3 linked regions of the Homo sapiens genome follow. The protein of the gene in region 1 purifies or fractionates together with the protein of each later gene. This does not show direct contact. Each region holds a gene or a part of one and is shown in the gene's direction. Other genes may lie near its edges.

Region 1 (2,289 bases):
TGAGACCACAGTTCTGGGTTATCTCCTCTCATACATCAAGCCCCAGAGGAGGCGGCAAGAGGAACAGCCACAAACAAGTACTTTACCCCACAGCTTAGTGGCCAGTAAACACCCTGGGGACTAGGAAAAGGAACCAACTGTAGGCACCTCTCCAGGGCCTAGGGAGACAAGTGTCCTCTCTTCTGCATACATTTGGGCTCCCCTTACAGAGCCCTTTGCCCTGGCTCTCTGGTCCTTGTTGCTCTAACAGTCCAGATGTACACCCAGCCTCAGGGGGAAGGCAGCTCTCTCCAGACAGAGTCTCAGGGCCCAGCAAGGTCAGGTTATCTGCTTTCATTCAGGGCAACAAATGATACAAATGGTGCCAGGGAGTGGCAAGGCCATGGGGGTAGGTGGGGGTGTCTTTTTCTTTTCATAAAGTAACAACAGACGAGACTGAGGTTAAACATCAGAAAAAAACCTCTGGAATGACCTTCCTCATTCCAGGAGGCCCTGGAATAAGGAAGAGGCTTCTTTCTGAGGGAGCTTTGAGGAATTTTGACAGCTGTTGACATGGGATTTGGGAAAGGTGAAGCTGTGACTGGAGGGGCAGGAGATGGTCCAAGTGTCCATCCAGAGATGAGACTCTTAGAATCAAAGTGTTCAGCCCAGGAAGTCTTGGAGATCCCACCTTCTGTGGCCCTGCACCTTATGGGAAGCCATTAAGGGGGCTCATCTAGGAATTCTGGTTACAGCCCAGTGCTCATCCCAGCGTATGCTGCCTCTTTAGGGCAGCCCCAAGGGCCAGCCAGCCTGTACTCTGGGCAAGAGCCCAAAATGGCTAGGAATGTTTGACTCCCTTAATCTCTTCCCCAGCTACAGAGGAATCTTTTCTCTGCCTGGTCTCAGAATGGGACTGCCAACTGGCTCATTGGTGGGAGACACAGTATCCTCAAACCTGTGGCCACTGGCATGACAGTGGTGCTCTGTCTCCCTGGGTGACACCCACCCTAGGCTTCCTCCTGGATGTGATGGGGATTGCCAGAGAGGCTCTTAGCATAAAAGGCATTAGGTGGGCATTTTTCTGTGTGCCCCCAAAAAGCTCCATGGAAACAGGCACCTGGTAGCTGCGGAACACCCGTGGACTTGTGTATATGGTCATAGGCTTTGGGAAGACAGGACGTAAAGGAAAATGAGAGAAACAAAATGGGTCAGATAGCTTTGGCCACAGCCCCAGGCAGCCTTTGGGGCCTATGACACTTAGTGCCCTTAGATGGGATACATCTTGCCTCGGCCCCAAGACTCCTCCAACTTACCCGTCCCATCCAGGGCCTGCACAGCTTAGAGAGGCTCACAGCTTGGCAAATGCTAGGGCTTCATCAGACCACTGACTTGACTCAGTGTTTGTTAAAATGGAACCACTCCCGTTGGCCTACTGTTTCTCTCCTGTACTTCTTGTAATGATAGTTATTTATTGACTCTGGTAGCAGGCAGTTCTTAAATAAAGATGGTTTCTCAACCTGTTGGGGAAGCTGGCACGAGCTGTGGGTGTTATCATCAGGCTAAAGCATACCTCCTTGTCCTGTTCTTCACTCCAGAGGCTTTTATCCAAGAATTTCTTTACCCCCCACACAGTGAAATATAAGTAAGTTACAACATACAGTCTATATTGCTTCATCCAGTCCCAGGAGGAGGGAAAAATTAGGCCAAGATCTTAAGGCAGGTCCAAGCAGAGCACAGGCAGGCATTTGGCTAGAATCAGTTGGCTTTACCTAATACAGTGGCAGTAAACAATGCTTATGTGATGGTACTGCTTCAAGGTGGCCTGATTTTTAAGACATCTTTGAGGTGTTGACTCAGTGGTCCCAAAGGAAAGTCTCCCTGCAGATATATTAATGATACCCAACTGGTGAGAACGAGGCTGCTGCCTCTACTCTTGGTTCACAGCAGCCACAAGGGTGTGAATTACTAGTCACTTTCCAGCCACACTTTCTCACACATTCGATAACCATTTATCAAACTTTTTTTTTTTTGAGACAGAGTTTCGCTCTTGTCGCCCAGGCTGGAGTGCAATGGCATAATCTCAGCTCGCTGCAACCTCTACCTCCTGGGTTCAAGCGATTCTCCTGCTTCAGCCTCCTGAGTAGCTGGGATTATAGGCACCTGCCACCACAACTGGCTAATTTTTGTATTTTCTAGTAGAGACAGGGTTTCACCATGTTGGCCAAGCTGGTCTCCAACTCCTGACCTCAGGTGATCCACCCACTTCGGCCTCCCAAAGTGCTGGGATTATGGGCATGAGCCACGTGC
Region 2 (4,243 bases), on another chromosome or scaffold:
CAGGCCCTGGGCTAGGGACTTGAGGTACATTAAAGCATTTAATCCTCATTAACCCAATTTTACAAATGAGGAAACTGCCACAGAGAGGTGAGGGGACTTGTTCAAGGTTTGACAACCAAGTAAGGGAGCTGGGATTTGAACCCAGGTCTCTCTGGTTTCAAGACCAATACTCATAACCCCCACATGGACCAGGCACCATCACACCTGAGCACTGCACTTAGGGTCAAAGACCTGGCCCCACATCTCAGCAGCTATGTAGACTAGCTCCAGTCCCTTAATCTCTCTCAGCCTCAGTTTCTTCATCTGCAAAACAGGTCTCAGTTTCGTTGCAAAGTATGAAGTGCTGGGCTGTTACTGGTCAAAGGGAAGAGCTGGGAAGAGGGTGCAAGGTGGGGTTGGGCTGGAGATGGGCTGGAGCAGATAGATGGAGGGACCTGAATGGAGGAAGTAAACCAAGGCCCGGTAACATTGGGACTGGACAGAGAACACGCAGATCCTCTAGGCACCGGAAGCTAAGTAACATTGCCCTTTCTCCTCCTGTTTGGGACTAGGCTGATGTTGCTGCCTGGAAGGGAGCCAGCAGAAGGGCCCCAGCCTGAAGCTGTTAGGTAGAAGCCAAATCCAGGGCCAGATTTCCAGGAGGCAGCCTCGGGAAGTTGAAACACCCGGATTCAGGGGTCAGGAGGCCTGGGCTTCTGGCACCAAACGGCCAGGGACCTACTTTCCACCTGGAGTCTTGTAAGAGCCACTTTCAGCTTGAGCTGCACTTTCGTCCTCCATGAAATGGGGGAGGGGATGCTCCTCACCCACCTTGCAAGGTTATTTTGAGGCAAATGTCATGGCGGGACTGAGAATTCTTCTGCCCTGCGAGGAAATCCAGACATCTCTCCCTTACAGACAGGGAGACTGAGGTGAGGCCCTTCCAGGCAGAGAAGGTCACTGTTGCAGCCATGGGCAGTGCCCCACAGGACCTCGGGTGGTGCCTCTGGAGTCTGGAGAAGTTCCTAGGGGACCTCCGAGGCAAAGCAGCCCAAAAGCCGCCTGTGAGGGTGGCTGGTGTCTGTCCTTCCTCCTAAGGCTGGAGTGTGCCTGTGGAGGGGTCTCCTGAACTCCCGCAAAGGCAGAAAGGAGGGAAGTAGGGGCTGGGACAGTTCATGCCTCCTCCCTGAGGGGGTCTCCCGGGCTCGGCTCTTGGGGCCAGAGTTCAGGGTGTCTGGGCCTCTCTATGACTTTGTTCTAAGTCTTTAGGGTGGGGCTGGGGTCTGGCCCAGCTGCAAGGGCCCCCTCACCCCTGCCCCAGAGAGGAACAGCCCCGCACGGGCCCTTTAAGAAGGTTGAGGGTGGGGGCAGGTGGGGGAGTCCAAGCCTGAAACCCGAGCGGGCGCGCGGGTCTGCGCCTGCCCCGCCCCCGGAGTTAAGTGCGCGGACACCCGGAGCCGGCCCGCGCCCAGGAGCAGAGCCGCGCTCGCTCCACTCAGCTCCCAGCTCCCAGGACTCCGCTGGCTCCTCGCAAGTCCTGCCGCCCAGCCCGCCGGGATGCAGTCCGGGCCGCGGCCCCCACTTCCAGCCCCCGGCCTGGCCTTGGCTTTGACCCTGACTATGTTGGCCAGACTTGCATCCGCGGGTGAGTGAGGGGCCTGAGACCCCGACCCAGCCTGGCGGAACTAGAGGGGTTCCTCCGGGAGGGAAAAGGGACAGGAGGAGCCAGAAGTGGCCCCCAGATCGGGAGTCAAGCAGGCTGCGCTTCTCCCACCACTAGCTGGGGTCGCCAGGGGTTCAATCCTGGGGCGGACACGGGACCCCGCTATCTCAGGTTATGGGGTTTCTAGCTAGCCAAGGCTGTCCAGTTAGGGGCGGGAGCAGGCGCCCCAGGCATGGATTGCCTAGGGCGTGGCTTTGCCCGTTTGGATTGTCTGAGACACCAGTGGGGCCACCCCAATGCTGGCCGAGCTTTGTTTGCCAGGCAAGTTTGGGGTGAGTATGTTGGGGTCCAAAGGGACCCGGCGACAGTGAGAAGTGGGTCCTCCAGCTTCAGATGCCCTGGGCCAGGAATGGGGAGTGCTACAAGGTGGGAAACGAGGAATGAGCCACCCTGCCCTCCCCTGTGAGGAGCACCCCCACACCCCTCCAGCTGCCCCCCAGCTCTGCCCCTTCTTTCCTCCCCTTGCTTCCTTGCAGATCCGTCTATCTGCCACCTCCCCTCTTCATTCTCTCCTCTCCCTCCTCCTGTTGGTGACAGGCAGGACCCCCCACCCACTACCCACTCTCAGCCTCCTAGAGGGAGAGCTGGTGCCCCTCAGCGGGGCTTGTCCTACAGATAGCTCTGGACCACCCCCTGCCACACCTCCTCATCCCAGCACTGATGCCTGACCCAGCAGAGGCTGAATGGAAGTTCGCTTTCCGAGAAGTGCTGGGATATATCCCCTCTCTGTCCCGATGCCAGAAACCCCAACATGACAGCATTCTTCCTTCAGCGAAGGCAGCTCTAGTTATGCCATAAGAACTGTGGCCTTAGGGCCCATCCATCATCACTACCCACGTGTGATTCAGTGCTTCAGCTACACCTTCGAGATCATTCCCAAGAGCAACATGGAGCAAAGGCAGGGCCTGAGCCTCCTTCACAAGGGCCCAGGCCACACCCTTCTCTCCTTCAGATGGAGAAGCCAGCTCTAAAAGAGGGCATCACATGGTTCCCAGAAGGGAAGTGAGTCAAGGGAGGACCCCCGCGGGGTGAATCAGGGCTGGATCTCCAGGCTCCCTGTTCCTGCAGGGACCAGATCCCCTAAGATCTCAGGGCCTGAGGGATGGGCTGGGCCGCCAGGGAGATGGGAAGGGAGCATCCAAGGTGACCAGGGTGGTCAGCTCATTCAGGCCCCAGCCTCCAGCCAAGGAGGGATTCCAGTACCCCCACCTCCTTGGGCTTCAACTGAGAGCCATTCTCAAATACCTTCTTAGCCCTGACAGCATGCAGGCATGGTGCTAGGCTCGCAGGGGCACGGGAAATTGAGAGGCTGAACTGAGACTCATTCAGGAGGCAGAAAGGCAAATTAAATCTCAAACAGCAAAAATCTGGATGAAAAGTACAGAGGGGAGAAAAGCAGGGGCAAGCTGGGGCAGGACACAGGGTGGGCCTCAAACCAAGCCTTGGTGGATGGGAAGGGAGTCAGTCCTCCAGGCAGGGGCGCTGACTCAGAGGCACCAAGGTGGGCGTAAGCAGAGGGGTGTTGAGACAGGAAGGCCAGCAGCCTGGCTGGGAGGCGTATTTCGAGCACAGGCCAGGGAGAACCACTGGGCTGGGGCACAGAAGCCTTAAATGGCAAAATGAAGCCCACGGCCTTATGCCCTGTTGGCAAAGGAGATGCCACAAGGGTTTTAGGGCAAGAGAGCAGCATGGTGCTGTGGGGTTTTATAAAGTTACACCATCCCCTGCCTTTAGGAGGACTCGGAAATGAGGAGGGGCTGTGAGAGCTCCCGTCCAGCAACCCATCTCTGTCACCACTCCTGGTCCAGCTGCCTGCCCTGATTTCTGCAGTAGGGGCAGCCCCTGCCTGAGGAAGGCGTCCCTCCCACCCCTCCTGGATGCCCCTGGCTGCAAAGGCCCTCGTCCTCCCGTATCCGAATGAGGCGTGCTGGGAGGCTCTCCCTCTACTCATCAACATTTGAGGCATCCAGGTCAGGGGGCCTGGCAGTCAGCACCCTAGAGGCCATCTGGGCCAATCTTCCACTTGTATAGAGAGGGAAACTGAGGCCCCAGAGAGGAAGAAAAGTACTCTGAGTTCCACCAAGAACCCCAGCAGCCCAGGAAGAGCCCCCAGCCCTGCTTCGAGGGTGCTCCCAGCCTGCGTCGGGGCCTAGGCTTGGGCCACTGAGACAGTGTGGGTGACAGATGCGGTGTCCAGCTCCTTCTGAGCTGTATGGGAGGCCCCAGCAGAGAGCCAAGCATTGGGGGAGATTGGATTTGAGCTGATACTGGAAGGACAGGCAGAGAAGGAAGGAGGTGACATTCTAGTCGGGGGGTCACAGTGAGCACAGGGCAGGCAGGGGTGGTGGCTCCCACACCTCTTCCCTGGCATCACTGACTGAAAGGCAGAATGTGAGGGGTTGAAGTGGGACCCAGGTTGGGGAGTACCTGGCAGGGAGGGCTTGTGTGTTACCTGGGTGGGGACTCAGAACTGATGGGGGTATCTTAGTGAGCAGGGCCACAGGGACACCAGGTACAAGAAATTGAAGCAGGGTAGATCCT
Region 3 (3,500 bases), about 100 Mb from region 1:
AAACTCCCAGTAAAGTCCCAGTATTAGTCTGTCTATTCAGCTGTTAAAATGTAATTTAAGAGAGTAGAATAAACATCATATTATATATACCAACTTGTAGAGATAGTTGGTCTAAGTATATTACTGTTCTGTATTTTACTTGTAAATATTAATTTAAAAAATTATATGTTGAGAGCTGCTACCAAGCCTTTTTGTACTACTCACAGACTTAGGGTAACATAGGTTTTCTGTCATCTTCTGAGTATGTCTGGAAACCTAAAGAAATAGAAATTCTGTTTTAGCAATTTTTATTTCTAGTAGTATTTTTATTATGGGCAGCAGTGGAATTATAATGCCAAATATTAATAAATGTGTGAGGTTTTTCTTTGTTCTTTTTTAAATAGCTGATTGTTTTCATGGCATTAGCCAATGGAGTTTCCAGAATAAAAACAGGACCAGTTACACTCCATACGCAAACCGCGATACATTTTGCTGAACAAATAGCAAAGGTGAGTATTCTATCAGAAAGGGAAATTGATATTTTGATTTTTATTTTAGCCAATTTTGGGTTAAATTTTAATAGGAAACTTAATAGTAATCATAATTGCTATCACTGTTTCCTGTGTGACAGGCACTGAGCTAATTTAGCAATTTATCTAAACTGTCTACTCAGCATAACTATTGTAGGTGGCTATTTATTATTATTCCCATTATAAATATGAGTAAAGTGAGGCAGAGAGATTCATTAAATTGTTCAAGGCCACATGGATTTTTAGTGGCAGAGCTGAGCTTTGAGCAAACCTGGGAAAGCATACTTCAAAACCCATGTTATAATCACTGTGTGGTACTGCCTTACAGAGTAAGTAAAGATGTTTTGTTGTGAACTATGATATCAAATCACAAGGGATTCATAGTTGGCTATAAAAAAATTTATATAAAATTTTAGACATTTTATTTTCTTGATTCTATTGGTAAAATAGAATATTTGTTGAAACTAATATTCACTGTCCTCTGAAATTTAGTAGAGTTGACGTACAGTTTTTAATGAAGAAGGATTTATCATTATATGAGCTCATATTCATACCTTTCCTACAGGATTCTTTTTTTTTTTTTTTTTGAGACAGGGTCTCACACTGTTGCCCAGGCTGGAGTGCAATGGCATGATCTCGGCTCACTGCAACTTCTGCCTCCCAGGCTCAAGTGATTCTCCTGCCTTAGCCTCCCAAGTAGCTAGGATTACAGGCACATGCCACCACACCTGGCTAATTTTTCTAATTTTTGTAGAGATGGGGTTTTGCCATGTTGCTTAGGCTGGTCTCAAACTTCATAGCTCAGGTGATCTGTCCACCTTGGCCTCCCAAAGTGTTGTGATTATAGGTGTGAGCCACTGTGCCTGGCCTGGATTGTTAATTTAAAGAAACAATAGGTATATTTCATCATGAAACTAATGTAATTTCTTTATAGGAAATAGAGGGGAAAAGCCTTCTCATAATTTCCCCTTGCCGGTAAAACCACTGTTGACATTTAGGTGTTTTCCTCTTCTCCTAAATCGTTTCTCTTTGCATTTTTTGCAGTTAATGCATACAACTTCATTTCTTGCTTATTTCAGTAACATGTAGCATATTTCCCATTTTGCTTATTCTTTATAAAGTAATTTTATAAAGAAATATAAAATTTGTAACAATTTTATAAGGGAAGTTGCTAATCTTAAGCATTTTTATTATTATTGTTTTTGAGACAGGGTCTCACACTGTTGCCCAGGCTGGATTGCAGTGGCACAAACCTCCTGGGCTCTCAAATGATCCTCCCACCGCAGCCTCCCAAGTAGCTGGGGCTACGGGAGTGTGCCACCACACCTGGCTAATTTTTTGATGTTTTGTAGAGATGGAGTCTTGCCACATTCCCAGGCTGGTCTTGAACTCCTGGGCTCAAGCAGTCCTCTGACCTCAATCTCCCAAAGCGCTAGGATTACAGGTGTAAGCCAGCATGCCCAGCCCTAGTCTTAAGCATTTTTTAAAGTGACAAAAGTAACATATATTAATTTAAAAAATTAATCATTACAGAAGTGTCCCATACACAAAACCACTGTTGCTGCCCTACTCCTATTTGTATGATGATCCTTTTTCTTTTCTTTTTTTTTTTCTTAAGATAGAGTCTTGCTCTGTTAGCCCAGGTTGGAGTGCAGTGGCACAGTCTTGGCTCACAGCAACCTCTGCCTCCCAGGTTCAAGCAATTCTCATGCCTCAGCCTCCAGAGTAGCTGGGATTACAGGCGTGTGCCACCATGTCCAGCTAATTTTTGTACTTTTTAGCAGAGACAGGGTTTCACTGTGTTAGCTAGGCTGGTCTCAAACTCCTGGCCTTACGCGATCTGCCTGCCTTGGCCTCCCAAAGTGCAGGGATTACAGGCATGAGCCACCGCGCCTGGCCTTTCTTTTTTTTTTTTCTTTTAAGAGACAGGGGCTTGCTCTGTTGCCCAGGCTAGATTACAATGGCAGTATCATAGCTCACAGTAGCCCCGAACTCCTGGGCTCAAGTGATCCTTTCACCTCAGCCTATCAAGTAGCTAGGACTGCAGCTGTGCACCACCACACCCTGCTAATTTTTTTTTTGTTTTTGTTTTTGTTTTTTGAGAGACGGGATCTCCCTGTGTTGCCCAGGCTGGTCCTGAACTCCTGGGCTCAAGTGATCCTCCCACCTCAGCTTCCCAAATGCCGTGATTACAGCTGTGAGCTACTGTGCCCAGTTTGATTCTTAATTATGTATACTTTTAATTGTTATTAAGAAACATAGATAAGTTTTTGTTAAATTGTAGGAAAGACTGATGGGAATTAAAGGCAAATTGTATTTGATGTCAAGAGTGTTAACTCTATTTTTTTTGTTACTCTACTTATGCTGTATTTATAACTATTACTTGTCTGTCTCTCCTTATAGATTGATCTCCTTAATAGCAGAGATCAGGTTTTATTCATTATATTCTTTACTTTTCACAGTACTTTACATATAGTAGATGCTTACTTGTTATTTGAAATGTATACATAACGGAAAGTGCTATGAACCTGTGTATAGCTTGTATCTTGGTCAGCTTTGTTGTGTATAACTGGGTGACTTGGGGCAAGTTTCTTATCTTTCTTTGTCTCAATGCAAATAGTTATCTGTAAAATCAGACTTAAGCTAGATAGGCCTGCTATGCTCCTTTCAGGTCTACATATTTGTAGTTTTAAGTAGGTTTATGTATAGGCTAGAAATGATTTTCATAGCTGCTACGTGTGTTTCATATTTACATAATGCTTGTAATTTGAAAAATATATAAACGCATGCATATATTACTAATTAATTAATATGGTTACCTAGCTCAGAATTCAGCATTTATTCATTCAACAGTAATTTCAAGTGTCCACTCTGTGTCAGTACATTACCATGTAATGCTGAAAGTGAAAGAATTTTTAAACATTACTATTCATTCAGTAAGGCCCCCAAGTGATGGTTTTCAAATTGTGCTTCCAAGAATCCTAAGATTTT

Evidence for each region.
Region 2: the proteins of CNTN2 (region 1) and CSPG4 purify together in Homo sapiens (affinity purification with mass spectrometry; one large-scale study listed by BioGRID and IntAct). This does not show direct contact.
Region 3: the proteins of CNTN2 (region 1) and RTCA purify together in Homo sapiens (affinity purification with mass spectrometry; one large-scale study listed by BioGRID and IntAct). This does not show direct contact.

The regions. Positions count from the first base shown.
Region 1 is NC_000001.11:205,076,501-205,078,789, forward strand, and holds the end of CNTN2 (contactin-2 precursor), read left to right. Parts: 3' UTR 1-1,789; downstream 1,790-2,289. UniProt on the Homo sapiens protein: In conjunction with another transmembrane protein, CNTNAP2, contributes to the organization of axonal domains at nodes of Ranvier by maintaining voltage-gated potassium channels at the juxtaparanodal region. May be involved in cell adhesion.
Region 2 is NC_000015.10:75,710,049-75,714,291, reverse strand, and holds the start of CSPG4 (chondroitin sulfate proteoglycan 4 precursor), read left to right. Parts: upstream 1-1,443; 5' UTR 1,444-1,536; coding exon 1,537-1,624; intron 1,625-4,243. UniProt on the Homo sapiens protein: Proteoglycan playing a role in cell proliferation and migration which stimulates endothelial cells motility during microvascular morphogenesis. May also inhibit neurite outgrowth and growth cone collapse during axon regeneration.
Region 3 is NC_000001.11:100,286,716-100,290,215, forward strand, and holds part of RTCA (RNA 3'-terminal phosphate cyclase), read left to right. Parts: intron 1-383; coding exon 384-488; intron 489-3,500.